Linked DNA regions of Homo sapiens: region 1 is linked to region 2. Evidence: fine-mapped expression QTL. Tissue or cell type: whole blood. Region 2 holds a variant in brackets; the other region holds the start of a gene. All regions are shown on one strand. Distances are from middle to middle.

The links.
Region 1: it holds the start of NECAP1, and the variant in region 2 is fine-mapped to the expression of NECAP1 in whole blood (INTERVAL, PIP 0.98).

What each region holds. Positions count from the first base shown.
Region 1 is chr12:8,077,418-8,085,755 of GRCh38, reverse strand. NECAP1 (NECAP endocytosis associated 1) reads right to left here and starts at 3,482. Exons shown (of 8, transcript NM_015509.4): 1 at 3,373-3,482. The coding sequence starts at 3,467. RefSeq lists enhancers at 3,240-3,299, 3,370-3,589, 3,021-4,220, 8,126-8,338.
Region 2 is chr12:8,048,491-8,056,828 of GRCh38, reverse strand. FOXJ2 (forkhead box J2) reads right to left here. Exons shown (of 11, transcript NM_018416.3): 8 at 8,031-8,132; 9 at 7,258-7,467; 10 at 6,209-6,307; 11 at 1,312-4,067. The coding sequence ends at 3,979. Among named protein-coding and RNA genes, the nearest start is that of C3AR1, 14 kb to the left of the region's middle. The variant T/C (reference allele first, on the strand shown) is at 3,258.

The DNA.
Region 1 (8,338 bases), 29 kb before region 2:
CGCCAGCCTGGGTGACAGAGCGAGACTCTGTCTCAACAACAAAAAAAAAAAAAAAAAAAAAAAAAAAAAGAAGATTAAGTGAGAGGATCCTACAAGGTAAGTATTGTTATAGTCATTTTTACAAATGAAGAAACTAACATTCAAAAGTGGTGATTTGCCAAAGGTAACCCAGCAAATAAATATCGTTATTCAAACTTAATTCCGCTCTCTTCATGTGCTGTACTAAAAAAGTGATTGATGATAAGGTGCCTCTTGGAGGATAAAAAATGCCAGTAGACATGGAAAACACAGAAGGATAACAGGAAAAAGAGGAAAATTAAGAAACTGCTTTAATGGCTCAGTGCAGTTAACTGATGTAAGTATAAAGGTTGTGGAAAACTAAGAAGTGAAGATAGAGAAGATGGGTGAGAGGGGAGGTGTTTTAAAAAGCTTGAAGTAGGCCGGGTGCGGTGGCTCACGCCTGTAATCCCAGCACTTTGGGAGGCCAAGGCAGGCGGATCACGAGGTCAAGAGTTTGAGACCAGCCTGGCCAACACAGTGAAACCCCGTCTCTACTAAATATACAAAAATTAGCTGGGCATAGTGGCACGTGCCTGTAGTCCCAGCTACTTGGGAGGCTGAGGCAGGAAAATCACTTGAACCGGGGAGGCGGAGGTTGTGGCGAGCTGAGATTGCGCCAGCGCACTCCAGCCTGGGCAACACAGCCAGACTCCATCTCAAAAAAAAAAAAACTTCAAGAAAAAGAATATAATCCCACTTCAATATGTATCATATCCTTTAGGAGTCTTAACTCCTAAAGTTGGAAGTAATGAGCTATTTGACCTTATTTAACAGTTCAATCAATGCCACTTTATGTGATTAGGTTTCTCTGTGTAATCTACTGATTTCTTCTTTCAGTCAACATTTACAGGGTGCCCAAAGTGTACCAGATACTGTGCTAGACCCTGGGAATATAAAGTTAAAAAGATCTCAAGTTGTTCACAGTCTAGCCTGGAGAAAAAAGGAGACTAAACAATCCATTGTACAATCCACTGTAATCCATTACAATACAAAATGAAGAGCCCTGGAATAGAGATAAGAATAAAGTGCTATGCAGGAACAGAAAACCAAACACCACATGTTCTCACTCACAAGTGGGAGTTGAACAGTGAGAACGCATGGGCACAGGGAGGGGAACAACACACACTGGGGCCTCTCGGGGGAGGGGCGAGGATGACAGGTTGATAGGTGCAGCAAACCACCATGGCACATGCATACCTATGTAACAAACCTGCACATTCTGCACATGTATCCCAGAACTTAAAGTAAAAAAGAAAAAGAAAAAGGTGCTATGGAAGCACACAGGGTGCATATCTAAACCAGAATGGAAGGGTCACATAGGGCCTCCCAAAGAAGGTGATGTTTAAGTGACTCATATAGTACCTGTAACTACCATCTAAAAGCATGTTGATTTCTACTTAGGGTCAGTTTGGGGTCCAACTAAAAGCTTATTAAAAACAGAACTGCTACCTCTTTGCCAAAGGTGCAACCCACAGGGCCCAGCGCACAGGTCAGCAAGCATAAAAATATTGATTCATGATGAATAAAACGCCAGTAAGGGGCAAAATAACAGACATAAGGAGAGGGTAACTTTTCAGCCAAGGTAATGATAAATGCCAGGAGGAAAAATCACAATGATGATGTGGGTCAGAGAGAAGAATAAGAACAGTATCTTGGCCAGGTGCAGTGGCCCACACCTGTAATTTCAACACTTTGGGAGGCTGTGGCAGGAGAATCACTTAAGGCCAGGAGTTCGAGACCAGCCTGGGAAATATATCAAGATCCTGTCTACACAAAAAAATTTAAAAATTAGCCAGGCATTGTGAGGCAATGCCTGTAGCCCTAGCAACTTGGGAGGCTGAGGTAGGAGGATCCCTTGTGCCCAGGAGTACACAGCTGCCGTGAGCTGTGATTGCACCACTTGCACTCCAGCCTGGATGATAGAACGAGACCCTGCCTCTCTAACAAAAAAAAAAAAAAAAAAAAACGACGGCTGGGCGTGGTGTCACGCCTGTAATCCCAGTACTATGGGAGGCCAAGGTGGGCAGATCACAAGGTCAGGAGTTCAAGACCAGCCTGGCCAACTTGGTGAAACCCCATCTCTACTCAAAATACAAAAATTAGCCAGGTGTGGTGGTGCATGCGTGTAATCCCAACTATTCAGGAAGCTGAAGCAGGAGAATCGCTTGAACCCAGGAGGCGGAGGTTGCAGTGAGCTGAGATTGAGCCATTGCGCTCCGGCCTGGGCAACAAAGTGAGACTACATCTCAAAAAAAAAAAAAAAAAAAAAAAAAAGAACAAACAAATAGTATTTGTAACTGCTTTATTGCATTTCCTACATTCTTTCACATCCATTATATGATTTAATTTTACTCTCCCAAAAACCCTTGTTAAGCACATTATAAGAGCGCAGGTATCATCACTAACAGGTTTTTTTTTCTATTTTACAGATGAGAAAATTGAGGCTTGGAAAGGGCTCACACTCATATGGTTTAACATGAAGCCCAGTGAACTGTCTTTCAACTACATAATGTCCTATAGCATCCTCAGAACCTCACAGTCATTGGATTACAAGGTAGGTAGTTAGGCCCAACAGAGAAAAATGCTGCCTCAACTTTGGAGGGAAAAGGTGTAGGAGAGGTTAAGAAGGGAGGTAGGGAAGGAAGACAGAAAATACTATATAATCATCAAGAAAATACAATGAGAAGAAACAGAATGAACAACCGTTGTAAAGCTTATGATCATAACCTTTGCTCACTGGTAAAACTGCTGAAGGAAAAACCGAATGGTGGATGATGACAGTTGGTGACGAAATTGACAACAGTACAAAAAATAAATCAGATAATCCAGAGTGGCAAGCAACACGATTACCCATAAATGTGCATGGGGAACTGGAAAGGTGTGTGTGTGTGTGTGTGTGTGTGTGTGTGTGTGTGTGTGTGAGAGAGAGAGAGAGAGAAAGGATGAGGATGATAAGCTGAAGGACGCAGGGAAGAGCGAATGAAAGGGGACTGGCAATGGAGCAAGCACGACTGAAAGTGCATGATGGGGAGCAGATGGGTGCCCCAGGGGATTACGGGAGAGGCAGAGTGGAATAACGCAGAGTGGTAATTTAATAAAAAACAAAACAAAAAAAAAAACGGCAGAAATATGGTGATGACAGTCCAGAGTGGAGATGGAGCAGGTGGTCAGGGAGATGACAACCCAGGTAGGGAGGCTAGCAAGGTGACAATACAGAGGTAGTAGTGGCAGGGACGGACAGCGTGCTAGCTGAGAAGGAAGCTGTCATCTGCGACAGAGTACGCGTGTGCGGCAGCGCCTCGGGGTTAGTACCTGTAACCGCGGTTGGAGGCCCGGGGCGGAATCCGGTAGACGCTGACGTCTGGCTTCACACACAGCACAGACTCGTACTCCAACTCGGTCGCCATCTTGGGTCCGCTGTCGGCGCTGCCGGGGGCGAAACGTAAGACCGGAGGCGGAGCACGGGAGGCGGAGATGCAAAGCGCGACAACTTCTGTTGCGTCACTTCCGCGCGAGTTCAAGTTAGTTTCTGAGATTAACCTTTTCGGTGACGCGGGGAGCCATATTGAAACCTGGAAACGATGAGGCTGCACGGCTCACCGTCTTGGATAATGGCAAAGATGGCCTGCAAGTGCGTGACTCTCGTTATGGAAATCTCTGTCCTGGAGAGGTGCTTACGAAAAGCGCCATCTTACTCTAGGCAGGTGCCTGGAGTGTCCTACGAGGACGAGGACCATATTGAATCGTGACGGATTTTCTTACAGGAGTCACTTCCTAACTGTAGTCTCCTGGCAGAAAAGAGGCAACCTCCAGCCGGTAGTCCCAGACGAGGTACCTGCAGAGAATGATGTATGATCTGGTCATAGACACCGTGGATTTCAACTCTCCAGAGTCTAAACGCTGAAAACACCCAACTTGATTTAGTGCCTTACACTCTTTATCTCCGATTTTTCAGGACGACACCTGTTAAAATGTTTTGCCACACTTTCGGCGTGTATTCCGATTATCTTTTTGGAAAATTTGATCCTGTTAAATAGACTATACGTGGGATCAACCCAATTCCTGATAAAATCGGAAGCATAATGAACTATCTAATGGCCTATATTAGCTCCCAGTTCTATTATAATGATAAATGCTACCGAACTCTCACCATAAATATGCTTTTTCTGCGCCCCAAAGGTAAACTTAACCACAACACCCTGACAGTACAGATAGCAAGTGGCAAAACTGAGACAGAAACTCAAGCCTGCCTCATTACAACAGCAGCAGTCTTCACCGCTGCTGGAGCTGGCAAGGTCACCAAGTCTGCCCAGAAAGCTCAGAAGGCTAGATGAATATCATCCCTAATACCTGCCACCCCACTCTTAATCAGTGGTGGAAGAACGGTCTCAGAACTGTTTGTTTCAACTGGCCATTTAAGTTCAGTAGTAAAAGACTGGTTAATGAAAACAATGCATCGTAAAACCTTCAGAAGGAAAGGAGAATGTTTTGTGGACCACTGGTTTTCTTCTTCAGAAGGAAAGGAGAATGTTTTGTGGACCACTGGTTTTCTTTTTTGCGTGTGGCAGTTTTAAGTTATTAGTTTTTTAAATCAGTACTTTTTAATGGAAACATCCAAAAATTTGTCACAGAATTTTGAGACCCATTAAAAAAGTTTAATGAGAAAAAAAAAAAAAGCAAACCTGCCTCTAATTTGTCTGCTCCACCTTGGAAAGTGATATCTTAAATTTCAAAAAGAATTACCACATTTATCCCTGGCGAGGACGTGAGGAACAGTCTAATCTCATACACTGTTGGCAGGAATGTAAATTGGCACGGCATTTTTAAAAGGGAAATTAACAGAATTTATCAAAATATTAATTGGACGTAATCTTCAATTTAGCAGTTTCACTAATAAATATTGTAGAGAAATCCTTATATGCACAAAAAAGTATGTACAATAATACTACAGCATTGTTTGTAATAGTGAAAAAAATGGAAACAAAATGACCATCTATCAATGGGAAATGGTTAATGGTATATCTATTACTATGAGATGTTTTGAACTAAAGGGTTAGCCATTGAAAGAGATCCAAGATTTTTTAAAGCCAACTGCAAAAAACATACAGCATTATCAACTTTTGTCGAAACACCCCAAAATTATATATGCATGCATGTAAATGCATTGAGAAGGCTTTCAAAGGATATAAGGCTAAGTGGGGGAAAGAAACTTATTTTCTCCTCCATATATTTCTCTGTTGTTTAAGATTTATATAGCTATTATTGTCACTGAATACATGTTAAAAGAAAAATAAAGACAGAAAAGTGGTTTATTACTTGTTGTTCCTTATTTCTGACCCTATGATCTCATCTGAAGCCTAGGTCATATGACTACACCACATTGTACCTCTTTTTTTTTCTCTGTTCTGTGTTATCACTGGCAATCATTTTTGGAGGATTCTGGCTTCTGGTTCACCTTCTTACTAGTTTATACTCTTCCTCTTCTCCCAAATCTTTTAGAGATTTCAAAGCCCATATAGTTAACTCTTCCTAGCCATACAATCTCTTGACATAAATTCTAACTATCTTTACCTCTCTTTTCTACCTCACCTGTTCTTCTTCATGTTCTGCACATTGTTAGCCTTCTCTTTATTCCTCCCATCTCCTTGTTTCAACAGTTCTCTTGCCAGCATCCTTAAGTTTCCTTTCCTCTTTGTCTTTCCATCACAGCCAACCCAAAAGACTCCAGTCTTATATATTCCAACCATCTCCCTCCATCATTCTCCAAAAGCAAATCACACAATTATAAAGATTGGTGTCCCTAAAAGTTTATGGGTTTGAGTCTCAGCTTTGCCCTTAACACCCAGATTTGCCATTGCTAGTTTTTATTTTCATTCCCTTTAATGGTTGTTCCAAATTTTGCTGCCCTTTCAGGCCTTCAACTCTAAGTCTTCTCTTTTTCTTTCTTGACAGGTAAAACATCTTACTACTTCCCTAAGAAAATAAAGTTTGTGTGAACTCTCTCAACTTAATGACACCCTATTCATACTCCTATCTGCATCTTCATCTATTCTTTCTCCTATCCACTTGTGTGTGCCCTGGATTCTCCTCAGGGACCAATCTCCTCAGGGACCTGGTTAATCAGTTATCTCCTTTCTTTCCTGTATCTTAAAACTCATTTTCCATTCACCCCTTTCCCTCACCATGTAAGTATATTCAAGTCCTTTCACCTAAAAAAAAAAAAAAAAAAAAACCCTTACTTAACCATGTTTTTTCTTTATATAAATTTAAATTTCCCTTCTCTTGCTTCATCTCAACAGAAACAGAAAAAAATACAGTCTTCCTCACTCTCACCCACGATGTCTTCTCTAGCTTAACTGATCACATTGCCATAATTTTCCATACATGCCATTTTTATTCATGCTGAACATATTTGTCCAGACTGAAATGCACTTCCCGTTCATTCCTTGGTAAGATGCCTTTAGATCTAATCTAAATATCAATTTATCTCAGAAGTTTTCCTCAACTTCTCTAAATAGAACTGGTAACTGCCTCCTCTATGCTCCCACAACATTTGTACAGCTGTTTTAGTTCTTAGCACATTGCATTCAACTGCTTGTTGGCATCTCTGTTTTCCAAGGGAAAGAAACAGGTTTGTGTTTTCCCAGTATCTAGCACAGTTTTCAGACTATAGTAAGAACTCTGTATGTTTATTTGCTAAATGAATGATCATTTCAGCCTGCCTTAACAGGGATGATTTGTTCTTTCCCAATCAAAATAATTAAAAATGTCTTGGGCCGGCACAGTGGCTCACGCCTGTAACCTCAGCACCTTGGGAGGCTGAGGCAGGCAGATCACTTGAGGTCAGGAGTTCAAGACCAGCCTGGCTAACATGTTGAAACCCTGTCTCTACTGAAAATACAAAAACTAGCTGGTCATAGTGGTGCATGCCTGTAATGCCAGCTACTTGGGAGGCTAAGGCAGGAGAATTGCTTGAACCCAGGAGACGGAGGTTGCAGTGAGTCAAGATCATGCCACTGCACTCCAGCCTGGGCTACTGAATGAGACTCCGTATCAAAAAAAAATAAACTAAAATAAAAAAATTAAAAATGTCTTGTCTCGAACTTATCTTTGCCCACCACCGGGGGGTAGTAGCTACACAGCTCACAGGTTCTGGGCTGAGTAGACTGTGCTAAGTCAAGCTAGTGTTCTTGTATGTGGCTTTGTAAGTATATGATTTAACCAAGTTTAACAAAAGCTTGTTTTTTTAAATGCATTGTTGAAATTCATGGAGGCCTTACCCATCTCAAATCTTGGTCACTTTTAGATGTCATTTAAACATGAAAATAACTTATGGTTTTCTTAACTTAGCCCTACCAGTAACATATTTCCCAGCTCTTCTTTACGCACACACAAAAAGGTATTTATCACAGATTAAATTCTGACTTATCATTGCTCAGGGTACTGCTATCAATGGTATTTGTTAAAGTATAATTTTCCTAAATCCTGAAGTTGCTACACATGCAGTGGTAATAAAAATTGTAATGAGATTCGAATCATAGTTTACAGGATTTTTTTTAGCTAGAGTGGACCTTAGTAACCTTTCAGTTCAGATCTCATCCAAAGACATAGTTGGTGATGCAGTCAGGATCAGAACTTCATATCTCATGATTTACAAACTAACACTCTTTCCACTGTGAGATAGGTAAGGCCTCCATCAATTTCAACAATTCAAAAAACGAACATTTTTTAAAGTTGAAAACGCTGTGTTGGTCTTACCATGATCTCATATTTTAATCAAATAGCAGTTAAAGTCAGCCATTGACCTAAATCTAGCCATACCTACTCCTTGCTCTGCAGTGTTGTGCTGTAGCTGCTGTGTCAGGTTAAACTGGCTTTGCTTGTAAATTTGACAATCTTCAAATCTGAGGGGTAATGAATTCTAACTTTGATTTATTTACTGCTGTATCCCCAACACCTAGAACAGTGCCTGGCACATGGTAGGTGTTCAATCAATATTTGTAGTTTAAATGACAATAATCTAGAAACCTAGAGAGAGAAAAAAATAAAAAAGATTGAGAGTCCTATAACTACAGAACTTAGGATCAAAGCTACTTTAGTATTAATACTATTCATGAAGAAAAGACATCAGGTTCTACAGCCTGAAAAGCAAAGGATACGTCTCACTTGGGACACTTTAAGTTAGAATTCTGTTTCCTGATGATTTAAGGGAAATATCCTTTCCTCCTACATGTCCAAGCTATATAATAGCTTCAGAACATGAATAAAACTTGGCCCC
Region 2 (8,338 bases):
TTCAGAATATATCACATCTCTAAATATGCAGCAAATAAGTCTCCTAGTGAGTGACTATAGACTTGCTATAATAGCAATTAGCCAGGCTTCCAGAAACCCCAGCACATCCCATAAGACCCTGGGAATAAGACCTAAACTCCTGGGGTTAGTGTATAGGATATCAAGGTGAATAATCTTGACGCAGTTATAAAGATTTAATGTACAACGAGTAATCAGCATTTCTGGACTCCTTTTCTTTTCCATTTGCTTTGGAAATGTATTCTGAAGAAATTCCTACAATTAGAGCTCCCTCATTTCTGATGAAAACCTGGTGAGTACCTGTAACTATTTTGTACTGTATCTTCTCCAGGAAGTCCCAGATGGGAACACAGCTCCTGTCCAAAGTATAATATCTTTTCTTTTTTTTTTTGAGATGAAGTATCACTCTGTAGCCCAGGCTAGAGCACAGTGGCACACTTGGCACGATCTCAGCTCACTGCAACCTCCACCTCTCGGGTTCAAGCAATTCTTCTGCCTCAGCCTCTCAAGTAGCTGGGATTACAGGCGCCTGCCACCACACCCGGCTAATTTTTGTATTTATAGTAGAGATGAGGTTTCACCATGTTGGCCAGGCTGGTCTCGAACTCCTGACCTTGTGATCTGCCCACCTCGGCCTCCCAAAGTGCTGGGATTACAGGTGTGACCCACCGCGCCCAACCAATATCTTTTCTTTTTGAGAGAGAGTTTCGTTCTTGTCACCCAGGCTGGAGTGCAACAGTGCAGTCTTGGCTTACTATAACCTCCGCCTTCCAGGTTCAAACGATTCTCCTGCCTCAGCCTCCAGAGTAGCTGGGATAACAGGCATGCACCACCACGCCCGGCTAATTTTGTGTTTTTAGTAGAGACGGGGTTTTACCATGTTGGTCAGGCTGAGCTCGAACTCCTGACCTCAGGTGATCTGCCTGCCTCGGCCTCCCAAACTGCTGGGATTATAGGCATGAGCCACCACGCCCAGCCCCAAAGTATAATATCTTAAATCTTTAAACTATCCTAAAATGCAAGCAAGGTGGGCCTACTCCATATACCAACCTACAAGGGGTGACTGACTCTCCCGCAATATGTCATCATACTTGATAGCATTTGAAAAGAGGCACGTTAAGGACGTGCCTTTGATTCTTCTTTCCCACCAAGGTCACAAAACGTGTCAGGGTCAACTAATTCAACCCAGTGGTGGAAGGTGGAAGAGGAATAAAGACGAACTGAGACTAAATTCTTTCACGTTTCTCTTTTCCTTCCCTGGCCAAAAGAAACTTGAGACCACTACCAGTAAGATAAAACTGTAAACATTCTTTTTTTTTTTTTATTAAGAAAGCATGCAAAAAAACAATGACAACAACTTGTGAGACCATATACCCCCTTCCCAGGATGCAGCAATGCAAAGCATTATGGGTGGTGGCACAAAGGACTCACCAAACCAGAAACATGAGGAGCAGGGACTGAGGAGAGAAAGGTTGGGATGGGTGGATCTATACCAAATAATTACTCCTTTTGTCCCTCTCCTCCACTTTCTCTCTTATTTCCTCTTATAGGCAGTGAGCTTCTGCAGTTTTGCACACATCACCCAATACAACAATAATGACTACACTTTGTGTCCAGCAATGCTAGACCAACAAGAAAAAGTAGTATTCTTTTCATTTCATGAAGGGGAGGGGAAACTGAGGCCCAAAGGGAGTCAGGTTTGCCCTGTGCCACGTAGCAAGACTGGGCTTGGTGGAAGGGAGCTGGAATCTCAGGAGGCCTAATGGCCAATCTCCAGTCCCAGACCCAAACTTCAGCTACCCTGGCTGCACGCCAGAATTCTTCATGAGACTAGTTTGCAGAAGACACAGATGAACAAGGGGCATTTGCATGTATGATCCTACCCTTGCAAATCCTGTATGGATCTGAACAGGAAAAGGGTTTAGAAAAGAGAAGTGATCATTTACAAATGGGGAATATTGAGGAGAACTGATGGGAAGTTTTGTATAGGACACACCCTGACTGGAAGGAATAAGGAAGGAAAAGATGCCTAAAATAGGGACACTGGGCAAAGGCATTTTGCCACCCTCTAAGAGAAATTCTCCTTTCCCCAATGGGAAATATTATGTCATACTTCAACCCCACTAAGTGCCCTCCAACATCATGGGAGATTCAAGCCACTCGCACCCCCATTTCTTTCTTAGAAAGGCTTCAAAGAAATAAAGTGCTCTTTAGTTAACTGCCCTATCTTGCCCCTTTACTTCAGCCTCACTGGACTTCTTCAATGAACTCTCATATATAACCCCCTTCCAAAAAAAGGAAAGGGGTGGATGAAAGAAAAAAGCAGGAGAGCGGAACGCCAAACCTCTTGGAAATTATGGGTAAATAAAATAATATGCATGAAAAGCAGAAATCACAAAGAAAGTGGCCTTGTCTATTCCATACATTTTGTCCCACAGCTTTTCAGCAAGTGAAATAAGGACAGAAGTAAAATTGTTCTTCCCTCTCGTAACTAAAATTCAACAATCAACATTAAATATACACTGAGTACTTTGCAACAGTAAGTCATGGCCACCCCTTGTAAAAGAGATGAGTTAGCTCCATACCTTTTTCTGGGGGTCCCCCTTGGCCCTCACTGAACTCTTGCCTCTAGATTATTTACTCTCCTCCACCAATCTCCTTCACCCCTCAAAGCCTACTTGCAAAAGCTTCAGCCAGATGATCTGGATTCCAAGAGAAGCATCTGCCTATATATTTAAAGAACTAAAATATTCCCTATCCATTTCTTTGCCAGCTCTTTTTTCCTCTCCCCATCCTCCTACCACCAACACTAAAGGTTTGGCTCTGCTATGAGAGGTGGGAATGAGATTCCCATCATGTCTCAGGGCACGACGAAACTCAGAGTGATAATGGGTTACTTTTTCTTTCTTGAGAATCCCAGAAAATGAGGGAAGAAAAAAGATGGGTGGAAGATTTGGGCAAACAATTAAAGGAGGACAAACTAATATTTGCTGAATGGGAAAAAGGGATGGGAAGATCATTCGTAAATGCAAATAAGAGCCACAATTAATTTTCAGAGAAAATTATGTTTAAAAAGCCAAAATAGTTAAGTTGGAATCATCTCCAAGAAGCTAAAACCATGCTGAATAGTTGTCCTCATGCCCTACCATAGAAGCAGAGTTTGGGCTAAAACCAATCCTATCTTCTTAGAGAACAGGCTCAAAACAAGCCAATGGACACTGATGTAACATGGCAGTGTA[T/C]ACTCAGTTTCACACTGACTTATATTCCATCCCTTCCAATGGTCTCCAATTCCACTAGGATTTTATTGTCACCCTCCTGCACCACCATCATCACTTTCACCCTTGATAGGAAATACAGACTGGCAGAAGTAAGGATTGAAGGTATAAAGGGACAAGGAAGACCTCAGAGGACAGAATTAGCACCATTTTAAAACCTCCAAATTCTTGGCTGCCAAGTAATGTTTCAGACCCTTTCTACTTGGTAATGTGGCCTCTCCAGTCCTGGCCTGAAACTGATGGGAACAAAAAACAATTTAGGGCCAAAAGGTGGGATTAGCATTGAGTTTCTCCAAGAGAAAGGTAAACTGGAGTCTAAAACCTTTCTCTGTAGCTATCATGGCTTCATCTTCCAGCCTGATGATTTTAAATTAGCAAAAGGTGGACATGATCCATGATGTAGGGACAGGAGACTATGGACAGTATATAACCAATAATAATAATAATAATATAAGAATAATAATAAAAGAACTAGGAAAAAACAGGAAGGAAGAGAGAAGAATGAGGCAGGAAAGAGAGGGTTATCTTCGGCAGCATCTTGCAGTGGCTTCTCTGACAGAGAAAGAACAAAAAGAGGATATATGTCTATATACAGACGGGGGGAAGGGACGGGCTGGGGTTGCTCTTTCCCCACTGCCAGATTTCACCACGCGGCCCTGGGCTGATGTCCACACTCTGTGATGCACTAAGTGATCAAGTCCCAGTCGAAGTCATCAGGGATCTCCTCATTGGCACCAGGAGGTGGCACTGATGGCCGAGGGACCATATGGTGTGCTGTTAGAAAGAAAGAAAGAGAGTAAAAGGAGAGTGGATGGGAAGCTGTTCCCTCAATTTACAAGGACAGTGCTCAGCCCCAGATAACACCACGAAGAAGGCCTTGTGAGGCTATCGCCCTTATCAGCTGGAGTTAATTTTGGTTGCAGGTCACCATTTCAGTGAGGTCTCAGGAAATAAACTAGAGTAAATTACATTCCACAGCAATTAAATATTATGCTGCCATTAACAATTATACTTCTGACGCCAGGCACAGTTGCTCACACTTGTTATCCCAGCACTTTGGGAGGCCAAGGCAGGCGGATCACGAGGTCAGGAATTCGAGACCAGCCTGGCCAACATGGAGAAACCCCATCTCTACTAAAAACTCAAAAAATTAGCTGGGTGTGGTCACATGTGCCTGTAGTCCCAGCTACTCGGGAGGCTGAAGCAGGAGAATGGCATGAACCCGGGAGGTCTTGCAGTGAGCTAAGACCGTGCCATTGCACTCCAGCCTGGGCGATAGAGCGAGACTCCGTCTCAAAAAAAAAAAAAAATTGTACTTCTGAAAACATATGATAATGATAAAATAACATACAGAAGATAATATCATATGGCTGGGCGTGGTGGCTCATGCCTATAATCCCAGCACTTTGAGAGGCCGAGATGGGTGGATCACTTGAGGTCAGGAGTTCTAGACCAGACTGGCCAACATGGTGAAACCCTGTCTCTACTAAAAAATAAAAATTAGCCAGGCACAGTGGCGGGCGCCTGTGATCCCAGCTGCTCGGGAGGCTGAGGCTCGAGAATCACTTGAACCTGGGAGGCGGAGGTTGCAGTGAGCCAGGATCACACCATTGCCTACTGCACTCCAGCCTGGGCAACAGAAAAAGACTCTGACTCAAACAAACAAACAGAAGATAATATCACATGAAATAGCAGTATAGAAATCTGTATTTATATTATATGGACAAAGAATAGAGAGAGTCAGATGTCACCCCCAAAATTGAAAACACGTGTGGTTAGGCAGAATAACAGTGATTTTTCTATGTGTCTAAATGTGAAGGACCTGTTCATTTTGTTCTGTCTGTGGCAATTTAGTGTCTCCCTGCCCCACCCCCACTATCAGAGATACTTCAGTCCCAGACCCCTGATTCTAGAGATCAGGTGACAGGAAAGCAGACATGGGCACACAGCAAGTATGTGTGGATAACAAATTCATTTTATTTGCCTGAGCACATCTTCCATCTAGATTCCAAAGCCACACAAAAATGTTGCACATAGCTATCTTTTGCTTATATGTATGCTTTCACTTCCTTTTACTATTGCAGTTGCTAATTTTAAAGTACATCTAGCCGGGGCCAGTGGATCACGCCTGTAATCCCAGCACTTTGGGAGGCAGAGGCAGGTGGATCACTTGTGGTCAGGAGTTCAAGACAAGCCTAGCCAACATGGCAAAACCCCGTCTCTACTAAAAATACAAAAATTAGCCAGGCATGGTGGTGTGGGTCTGTAGTCCCAGCTAGTTGAGAGGCTCAAGCAGGAGAATCATTTCAACCCAGGAGGTGGAGGTTGTAGTGAGCTGAGATCGCACCACTGTACTCCAGCCTGGGCAACAGAGCGAGACTCTGTTGAAAAGAAAAGAAAAGGGGAAGGGAAAGGGAAGGGAAGGGAAGGGGAAGGGGAAGGGAAGGGAAAGGGAATGGAAGGGAAGGGGAAAGGAAGGGCAAGGGAAGGGGAAGGGGAAGGAAAGGGAAGGGAAGGGAAAGGGAAGGGGAAGGAAAGGGAAGGGAAGGGGAAGGGAAGGGAGGGGAAGGGAAGAGGAAAGGAAGGGGAAGGGAAGGGGAAGGGGAAGGGAAGGGGAAGGAAAGGGAAGGGAAGGGGAAGGGAAGGGGAAGGGAAGGGGAAGGGAAGGGGAAGGGAAGGGAAGGGGAAGGGAAAGGAAGGGAGGGGAAGGGAGGGGAGGGGACACTGTCTTCGTTAGTCTCCCCGACACACACCTTCTTAGCAGGTAACCCATCCTCCAGCCTTGGGAATTATAAAGGCTCATTCCCTCCAGCGAGATGCAGGCAAAAATGCACAGAATGCCAGCTCAGAGTCAAAGGAAAGCAAAGCAACTCATCAGAGTACAACGGTTTTGAAACAAGCTTCTTAGCTCTTACCTGGGCGATTGTATCCTGCTGAGTCCTGGGTGGGGATTGGGTACATTGGTGATGGGCCAGGGTAGAGGTGGGGAGCTTGTGGGTGCCCATAAGAGTTCACTGCCAAAGCAAGACAAGAGTTACTTGAGTTGGGGGGGGCGGGTCACTGTACTCAACAAAGCAGGGAAGAAAAAAATATACCCTTGCTCCCATCCTCCTTCTCTCTTCCCTGCCCTGTTCTGTAGCTCCTGCAGGCATGAAGGCTTTCTGCAGAAGCTGTCAGTCCTCACCACTGAGGGTAAAAAGAAATGGATAGTACAATTGTGAAATAGGAAAGATATAAGGAAGAAAAATATAGAAACACAGGGCCAGGTATGGTGGCTCATGCCTGTAATCCCAACACTTTGGGCAGCCGAGGTGGGTAGATCCCTTGAGTCCAAGAGTTTGAAGATAGCCTGGGCGACACGGTGAAACCCCAGCTATACACAAAATACAAAAAAAAAATTAGCTGGGCATGGTGGTACACACCTGTAGTCCCAGCTACTCAGGAGGCTAAAGTGGGAGGATCACCTGAGCTCCAGGGGTCAAGGTTGCAGTGAGCCGTGATCACACCACTGCACTCCAGAGCCTGGGCGACAGAGCGAGACCCCATCTCAAAAACAAAAAGCAAGAAACAGGAACATAATCATGACATCTCTCTCATTTCACTAGTTTGAACATCACATAAGCATAGAACCACCATTTCATCCGGTATCACCCAGGCGGTAGGGATTACTGAGACGCAAATTTAAAATACAGCCTTTCTCTAACAAATCTCCTCCCTTTTCTTAAACAATTCTGATCTCCCAAACTGAGGTCTAAAAAGGAATCATACAGTCTATTTCTTTTGCATTTTTCAGTTTAGGACTTCACTGATTCAACAGATATTCAGTCAACTGATAAACTAGTTCCACTGCTCAATTTGGGTCACTGCCCCATAAAATCCTTTCTCTCAGTTCTCTTTTGCCTTTCTCCTATGCTTCCTTTTCAACATAGTCTCCACCTCCATGGCAACTGGCTTGGTGCAGTACCTTGGCTCATGGCTGACTCCTGTTTGCCACTGGTGAGGGCACAGGAGTCAGCAATACGGGCAGGGGCTGGTGGGCGGTGGGTACCCCCTTGAGGGGGCACGTGACCAGTCTGAGTAAGGAAGTGGTTGAGGGAGTCACACAGATTGGCAATGTGATGCTGGTCGAGGGTCCAGTTCTTCTGCTCTGCCTGTCGTAGACTCTCCATCAGTTCTACAAAGAGGGAAGCAAGCAATGCAAACCTTGCAGAGGTAGGAAGCCCCTATCAGACCCCGCCCTATCTCACTGTTCCAAACACACCATCAATCACCCCCACTGATAACGGGCACTAACAATAACAATTTATATCTTTCAGAGCTCTGCATTTTCAAACTCTCATTCTATTTGATCCCTTACCAAATTCTTATAATTGCCATCTTACTGATGAGTAAGATAAACTTTCAATGTGACTGAGTGACTCAGCCAAGGTCACACTGTCAGTGAGTGGTGACAAAACTACAAAATCGTGGTCCACGGTCTCTAAATTCCTGAGGGCCTTCTCCCTCCCAAAGACAGAATGGACTAGGATTATTCACTGCCACATTTTCAGTTAAGACAAGATTAATTTGAGTTAATTTGAAAATAATGTAAATATGATCCATCTTGTGTAAAAAGAAAGAAAAACAATGAAATCCTCATTTCTGCAACTTCATTTAACCACCCCCTTCCGGTTCCAGTTTCTACTGGGTTTTCCCTTACAGTGTATCCCTCTCTTCCTTCGTCCTTTGATCACTAACCTGAGAATTGTGACTGCTCAATGCTGGACCAATTGAGCCGATTCACCATCTTGAAGCTTTCCTTTAAAGAGTCAATATTAGAGCACCAGTCAGAAGGAAAGGCTGTAAAGAGGAGGGGAAAGTGGATAATAAGATAGAGTGAAGTGTAAGACAGCAGTCAACTGATACCAGGCTGACTACATGCAAGATTCTTGCATCTATACAGATTAGCAGTTGCATTTCCAAGTTTTGGACTCTCCCTCCCTGGGAGTTTAGGACTGGAAAAGCTAGCTACGCTTTAAGTACAGCCAGGCTCATAGTCAGGAGAA